Homo sapiens: one gene and its partner. The protein of the gene in region 1 interacts with the protein of each later gene in a pairwise test. Each region holds a gene or a part of one and is shown in the gene's direction. Other genes may lie near its edges.

What was found.
Region 2: the proteins of PTAFR (region 1) and SERINC5 interact in a two-hybrid assay, tested with the Homo sapiens proteins (one large-scale study listed by BioGRID and IntAct).

The regions. Positions count from the first base shown.
Region 1 is NC_000001.11:28,173,759-28,178,210, reverse strand, and holds the start of PTAFR (platelet-activating factor receptor), read left to right. Parts: upstream 1-1,520; 5' UTR 1,521-1,619; intron 1,620-4,452. UniProt on the Homo sapiens protein: Receptor for platelet activating factor, a chemotactic phospholipid mediator that possesses potent inflammatory, smooth-muscle contractile and hypotensive activity.
Region 2 is NC_000005.10:80,144,511-80,148,320, reverse strand, and holds part of SERINC5 (serine incorporator 5), read left to right. Parts: intron 1-1,036; coding exon 1,037-1,076; intron 1,077-2,086; coding exon 2,087-2,231; intron 2,232-3,810.

The DNA.
Region 1 (4,452 bases):
AGGGACATTAGGAGGAGGAGCCTGGCCCAGATACCCAGAGCGGAGCTGAGACTGGATGCTGATGCAGGCCCCCGACTCTCCTTATACCTGCCTTGCTGTGGGACCCTGGTCCTGTCGGGACCTCAGTTTCCCTCTCTGTGTAGGAGGTTGTTGGGTCGGCTGATGTATCTGAGGGACTTGCTTCTTTAGACAGGGTCCACCCCAGTGCCTGGTGCCTGGGGGTGCTCAGATGGTGCTTGTTGGTTGGTTGAAGGAATGAGTGGGTAAATGGACTGGAAACTGAGGCAGATACTCTGGCTCACCTCTCACTTATGCACACGGGATGCCCCCACCAGCTCACTTTCACACATACCCTCACACCTACACTCAGAGATTCATGTGCATTCACCATCGATTGTCCACCCCTCTTCACCTGCATGCTCCCATGAACTCATACGCTGCCAACCCACACCAGCCTGGGTGAAAAAAAAAAAGAAGAAAGTATGTCCAAATTTGAATCTAATCAAACCTGTTTTCAGAAAATACAGGAGACAGAGGAATAGATTAAAGGACCTCACAAGGAAGCAATCAACCAAGTCCAGAATATAGAACATTCTACTGGACAATGGAGCCAGTTCTCTCCAGAAATCAACCGCATGAACAAAAAAACAAACACAGGGCCAGGCTCAGTGGCTCATGCCTGTAATCCCAACACTTTGGGAAGCTGAGGCGGAAGGATCCCTTGAGCCCAGGAGTTTGAGACCAACCTAGGCAAAACAGGGAGACCCTATCTCTACAAAACACGGTCTCAGGGAGCTTCCACCTCCACCCCCACAGATCTGTTCCCATGGGGTTTCTGGGCTCAATGTTTCTTGGTCTCCAGGGAGGCCCTGCCCTGTCATGCCCCTGACCACAGTGGCTCTTCCGAGCTCCTCTCTTCTCCCTCCACTTTATATCCCAGCGGGCATTCTCTTTCCTCCACTCCCCTTCTTTTATTTTCTCTCTCACCCCCATCCAGAGACGCACAGACCCAAATGTGCACAGGCACATGCTCGCTGTCTGTGTCTTGTCATCTCGTCTTTTGTCTTGGATCTTACCTTGTCTTTGTCCCTGAATCTCCTTGTTCCTCTCATCTCTCCCGGTGTTTACATCTGTCTTTTTCCCTGAGCCTCGCTCCCTCCATCCATTCCTCCGCCCTCTCATTTTTTTTCCCGACTCCCTCCTGCCTCCTCCCTTTCTCCTTTGATTTTCCTGGTCCCTCATCTCTCCTCCCTCCTCTTTCTCACTCTCATGCTCCCTTTTTCGCTCTCTTGAGTACATGCACTTGCTTTCTCTCTCTTGCTTTTCCTCTTTCTCACCTTAGCTCCTGGCCTCGGGCGCTGTCTACACCCCACCCCATCCCTCGCTCTTTGAGAAGCCTCTGTGCAGTGCCCAGGTCCTGGCGGCCCAGCTTGGAAGTTCCTGTGGTACCCCTTGAGAGGCCCTAGGGCCACAGCATTTCCTCCCAGGGGTGACTTGGTAGTGATACGCTCTGTTTCTTCACTTCTGCAATTGCCAGACAGCATAGAGGCTGAGGCTGGGGCCAGGACCCAGACAGAGACACACGGTCACTGCAGCTGAAGCCGCTGCCCCTGCTACAGGTAAGGGGGAATCCTGGCCCCTGCTGGGCAAGGGGGAGGCATATAAAAATGTCCTCAGGAGGCAAACCAAGGTCATGCCCCCAGGCTGCACCTAAGCAGATGGGTGCTTCTATTTCTTTTCTTTTCTTTTTTTTTTTTTTTTTTTTTGAGACAGGGTCTCTCACTCTGTTGTCCAGGCAGAAGTGCAGTGGCGCGATCATGGCTCGCTGCAGCCTGGACCTGCCAGGCTCAGGTGATCCTCCCACTTCAGCCTCCCGAGTATCTGGGACTAGAGGCATGCTCTACCACGCCTGGCTAATTTTTGTATTTTTTGTGGAGACGAGGTCTTGCCTTGTTGCCCAGACTGGTCTCTAACTCCTGGGCTCAAGCAATCAGCCTGCCTCGGCCTCCCAAAGTGCTGGGATTGCAGGCTTGAGTCACTGTGCTCGGCTGCTTCTGTTTTTAAGGGATTTTTCTGGCACCTTTCTCAGGCCCAGAGTCTCATGTTTAGAAATAACTTCTAGTGTCCAAACATTCCTGGAGAACCCAACACCCAAGTTTGGCTTTTCTGAGGCTGGGGCAGTGCTGACCCCAGAGATCCCACTGGGAGGTGTTGATGGTGGTGATGGTGGCAGTGCTGACCCCAGAGACCCTACTGGGAGGTGGTGATGGTGGTGATGGGGGCAGCTTGGATCTCAGGGAGCCAAATGACATCTACTTGACTAGCTGTGTGGTCTTGGCCAAGTTACGCTCCATCTCTGTGCAGTTTTCTAAATTGTCAAATAATGATAATCCCATCTCCCCCACAGAATTGTCGGGTCATATAAAGGATCTGGTACAGGGCGGGGTACTTAGGAACTCACTAAATGCTAGGTTTGCGGGGTGGGGAAGGGGGTGCTGAAAATAACCAGGTTCTTATACACAGGGCCAAGCCCACAAACAATAGCCCCTATCAGGTCCCAGGTGCTGGGGACAGGGCCCAGGCTGGCACCCACCGTCCTCTGCTTGCAGGAGGTCCAGACATGGGGCTGTGCACTCACTCACTTGTGAAATATGACAGAACCAGCAGGCTCTCTCCCCACACCTCTGGCTGCTCTCCTTTAGCTCTGACTGAATACCCAGCTGTGTTCCAGGTGTTTGGGGTGGTGTGTGTGTTGGGGGAGGCGGTAGGGGTGGGAGGTGTGTTGGGGAGTGCTAGAGAAGCAAAAGAGACACCACTATCTTTAGGTGCTGACAAACCGCCGGAGAAAGAGTTCAGCCCCTTAGATGACTGGGTCCTGGGCCTCAGGTGGGCATCCGGGGTTTCGATCTCAGCTCCTGCTGACAAGCCGGGGCCTTGAGTTGTTCGGAAGTTCCACTTTCCTCCTTTGCAGATTGCAGGTTAAAATACTGACCTCTGTGGGCCGGGCATGGTGGCTCACGTCTGTAATCCCAGCACTTTAGGAGGCCGAGGCGGGTAGATCACGAGGTCAAGAGATGGAGACCATCCTGGCGAACATGGTGAAACCCCATCTCTACTAAAAATACAAAAATTAGCTGGGCGTGGTGGCGGGTGCTACTCGGGAGGCTGAGGCAGGAGAATTGCTTGAACCTGGGAGGCGGAGGTTGCAGTGAGCTGAGATGGCGCCATCGCACTCCAGCCTGGGCAACAGAGCGAGACTCCGTCTCAAAAAACAAAACAAAACAAAACAAACAAACCACTGATCTGTGAGTTTGCAGGGAGGATGAAGTAAGAGTTGGGATGGGGAAGTGCTTTGTCAATTGGAAAATGCTGCGCAAAGGGGACTGATGAATTCCCTCTAATGCTGACTCTGGGATTCCTGCTGTTAAACGCCTTAGGGATGAGGAAACTGTTTTGTTCACTGTTGTATCCTTTATCCTTAGCACAGGGTTTGCAACATAGCATATGCTTAGAATATGCACAGGACAGATGAATGATGAAGCGGTTTTTGCAGTTGGAAGGGAACGGACGGTGAGCCAGAGGCCCAGTATCTGGTCCCAGCTCTGCCCCTGACACTGTGTTCACCTTGGGAAAATCCTTTCTCATCTCCGGGCCTCAGTTTCCCCATCTGGTCATTGAAGGAGTAAGGAATTCACAGTTTATGCTATCAGTGACAAAATGTGCCTACAGGACTGAGTTTTCTCTGACTGGTGGTGGGAAGCAGGTATGAGGAGAGGCTGGGATCTTATTGTCCTTTTACAGGGAGCAGAGATTCCCCACTTCCCACCCCAGGCCTGTGAAGGAGGCCTTGTTGAAGAGGATGGCATTCTCTTTCTTGGTGGCATCCCCCACTTTCCTGTTCTGATCCCCTAGATGGGTGGAGGCTTGGACCTCAGAGAGGGCAACAGTGGAGCAGGAGCCGGCAGCACCCCTTGATGGGCCTAGGGGTGTGTGTCTGGGTCGGGAGCAGAGCCAGCTCCCAAAGGGCAAGTGCTGGGACCCTGCTGCAGCCCCCTCTCTGACCACCCCCTCTTGGGCTCCTTGACAGCATGATGAGAGCGGGGAGAAGCCTCTGGTGTGTCTTTGTGTGTGCATGTGTGTCTGTGGTTATGTGGGGTGGACAGGGAGCTGGCTCTGGCTATGTCTACATGTATCTGGAATGATGGGCCGGGAGCATATCCGGGCTGCATGTGGCCTGCTCCAGCCAGACAGCTCCCCTCCCAGGAGCAGATGGCCAGCAAAGCCAGCTGAGAGGCTGATATGCCTCTGTGTGTCTTTGGCCGAGGGGAATCACAGCCAGATTCTGTGTGTGTATTTGTTTGTGTGTTTGTGTGTGAGAGAGAGACAGAATATGCAGGGGGAGGATCACCACTCAGCCACCCCTCCCCACCCCCTTGGTTCTGTAGGTGGGAG
Region 2 (3,810 bases), on another chromosome or scaffold:
TACTTGGGAGGCTGAGGCAGGATAATTGCTTGAACCCAGGAGGCAGAGGTTGCAGTGAGCCGAGATCGTGCCATTGCACTCCAGCCTGGGCAATAAGAGCAAATCTCCATCTCAAAAAAAAAAAAAAAAAAGAATAAAAAATACGCAAGGTACCAGAGATGCTTCAAAGGCAAGCATTCCCTCCATCCCTGCCCACGGCCCGTGCAACAGCTTGATTTTGATAGGAAACATGGGTAGGCTGCTTCCAGATTCCTTCACTTTACTATTTCAGATCCTACCAGCTTCGCCAAGCTCCTAGATACCACGTGTTACCTATTGTGAATCATGGATCTTGGTGTCCCCATCCTGCATTCGTCTGTTCCAGCTCTGTCACTAAGCTAGTTTGGTGACTTTGGCCAGTTAACCTGCCTGACCTCAGTTTCCTCAGCTGTACACAGGATAATAATAAGCCCAATGCAAAGGTCAAAGAGGGTTTAATGAAATAACATTGAAAGCAAAGCACGAGAAGGGAGCACCAGGAGAGTGGGGCTCTTGTCACGTTCATTGGGTTTCACATTGAGTTCTCCAGAAGCAGAGGCTGAGGCAGTTTGTTGCGTGGGATATTTATTAAAAGTCAGCACATGTGGGAGGGAGAAGGGGAAGGGGAGGCAAAATTGGGCAGAGGGTGAAGTTGAAGGACAGTGCAGCTGGACAAAGCCTCCCTAACCCTAGGAGCCATAAAGGCACGGCCTTTACCCCTGCCATGATCAGCCATTCCATGGCAGTTACCCAGGAAGGGTAAAGGAGCTCCTGTCTCGAGGCTCTGCTCTCAGCATTCATGGTAGCAGGAGCGAGCACCAAGTCCACGGATGAGGATCTCTGTGGCACATCTCCCTCCATGGGGTTTCCTGTCACCAACACCCAGCACACCTGGGAAAGAACAGTCCACATCTTTTGAAGGGCCTGGGAGGTGGTTCAAATAAGGGTTACTGTTGTCTTGCTGAGGTGGACTAGAAATAGAACACAAGCCGCCTGACTGTTGCTTTTGCTTTCACAGATAGCTCGCTGTTGTTTTTGCTTCAGTCCTGGTGGAGAGGGTAAGCAGAGCGCTTTTATTCTTTGCACCTGTGTGGCACTGCAGACCTATAACTCTAATCTGTAGTCATTTGGGATTCAGACACAAATAACTTGAATAGTAAGGAGAAAGTTTTATTCTAAAGCTGACTTACTACTTATACACTTTTCACATTCTTCCTGAAGGATAGCTGAGTTTTGTTTGTGTTGGTATTCTGGTAGAGAGAATCAGTCCAAATTTTGGTTTAAATGTAAGTTAAATTATACAGTGAGATTTAGAGAATCAGAGAGCACATTTTTTAAAAAGGAGTGATTTGGAAAATACCAAGAGGTCCTGACACCTTATTTTGGGGCCATTTCATTCCTTCACCTTACTTTCCAAGGTGGATTGGAGGATTCCAAGGGCTTGAGAACTAACTCTTGTTTTACTCTCACTTTCTGCTGAGCTTATAGTAAGTTTTACGTCTTTAAGGGTTTTTAAGGGTTCTCTTTCTGTTAAAATAAATGTGGCAGGGCAGGCACGGTGGCTTATGCCTGTAATCCCAGCACTTCGGGAGGCTGAGGTGGGTGGATCACCTGAGGTCAGGAGTTCGAGACCAGCCTGGCCAACATGGCAAAACCCTGTCTCTACTAAAAAACAATACAAAATTAGCCGGGCGTGGTGGCGTGTGCCTGTAATCCCAGCTACTTGGGAGGCTGAGGCAGGAGAATCGCTTGAACCTGGGAGGTGGAGGTTGCAGTGACCCAAGATCATGCCACTGTACTCCAGCCGGGGCAAAAAGAGTGAAACTCCATCTCAAAAAATAAATAAATAAAAATAAATGTGGCATTAGGTAACTCTTCCTGTTACGGAAGTTGCTAGGGTGGAGTGGGGGTTTTGTGCTTAGGGCACAGATTGAAGTTGCCAGAGGGTACAGATGGCTTTCTGGCATCTTTTCTACTGACAGCCCTGTAGAATTAGCGAGCGTGACTTTGCTGAATGGTAAACACACACATTCACTCATTGAGCCTGGGCTCCCTCTGTGCTTCACAGACACTGAAGAGCAGCAGCCGGGGAAGGAGGGACCACGGGTCATTTATGACGAGAAGAAAGGCACCGTCTACATCTACTCCTACTTCCACTTCGTGTTCTTCCTAGCTTCCCTGTATGTGATGATGACCGTCACCAACTGGTTCAAGTGAGTGGCCCATTTGCTTAGGTATTTTTGAAGCAAAGCCTTAAAGTTAAGAGTTAAGTACTGTTCGTGTTTGTTTGTTTGAGAAGGAGTCTCACTCTGTTGCCCAGGCTGGAGTGCAGTGGCACGATCCTGGCTCACTGCAACCTCTGCTTCCCAGGTTCAAGCGATTCTTGTGCCTCAGCCTCCCGAGTAGCTGGGATTACATGCATGTACCACCATGCCTAGCTAATTTTTATATTTTTAGTTGAGACGGGGTTTTGCCATGTTGGCCAGGCTGGTCTTGAACTCCTGACCTCAAGTGATCCACCTGCCTTGGCCTCTCAAAGTGCTGGGATTACAAGCGAGTTCTGAGTTTTAACAGTGGATGGGTATGTTTTAACCCTGGAAACTGGTGATGCTTATGGCAACTTTAAGAAAATGGAAAGTTAGCTCTATATGGACAGTCTGGAAAACATGGTAATGAAGGAAAAATAGGAACTCCTAAGCATTCATCTGCCTTTCAGAAAGAGAAAATATCCCTTTTTTTTCTACTTCAAATTTTGTGTATCTTTTTCCCCATTTTTCTTCATTTTCATTACAAAAATTGGAAACATCTTTTTTTAAAATACAAACTAAATGTGGAATTATGAAAAGTAACAATGTGGTACCCCCCCGCCTCTACTTCCCCCACACAGATAACCACTGCTAGGATGTGTATCCTTCTCCTTTTCTGTGCATTTATAAACCTCTGTAGTTTTTTTTTGTTTTTAGTTGGAGTCTTGCTTTGTCACCCAGGCTGGAGTGCAGTGGCGCAATCTCGGCTCACTGCAACCTCCGCCCCTGGGTTCAAGTGATTCTCCTGCCTCAGCCTTTTGAGTAGCTGGGATTACAGGTGCTGCCACCACACTGGCTAATTTTTTTTTTTATTATTTTTAGTAGAGACGGAGTTTCACCATATTGGCTAGGCTGGTCTCGAACTCCTGACCTTGTGATCCACCTGCCTCAGCCTCCCAAAGTGCTGAGATTATAGGCATGATCCACCATGTCCAGCTAATTTTTTTTTTAACATAAATGTCATTATACATGTTTTCCCCTGGAGGCTTTTTTTTTTTTAACTTGGCAGTACATGATTGACCTGGCCTTCCCTGGCACTACACAGAGGTTCATACTTTTTCTACAGGTCCACAGCTTTGGTTGTATCATAATTTTTTTGACCACTAAGTTAAGCTTAGACATGTAGGCTCATTGTGCTTCCTTTTATCATTCATTCAACAGATGTGCAAGTGGCTCCTATGTGCCACACGGTTCTATGAGGCAGGATTTATAGTCCAGCAGGAGAGACAGACTATGACGCAAGTCAAATATGGTGTGTTAGATGGTGATGAGTATTGGGGAGAAAAATAAAATTAGGAGAGGGAATTGGGGTAGGGGTGGTGGGAGTGGTGGTTTCAAGCACAGTGATTGGAGAGATTCTTCCTGAAGGAGGAGAGGAGAAGGGAGCTTTAATGCTTCCCAGTGATGCTTTGGGAACTCCTGGGAATTTTTGGCTTGGAAAGCTTAAGAAAAGATGGAGAAGGCTATAATTAAAAAGGCAGATAAT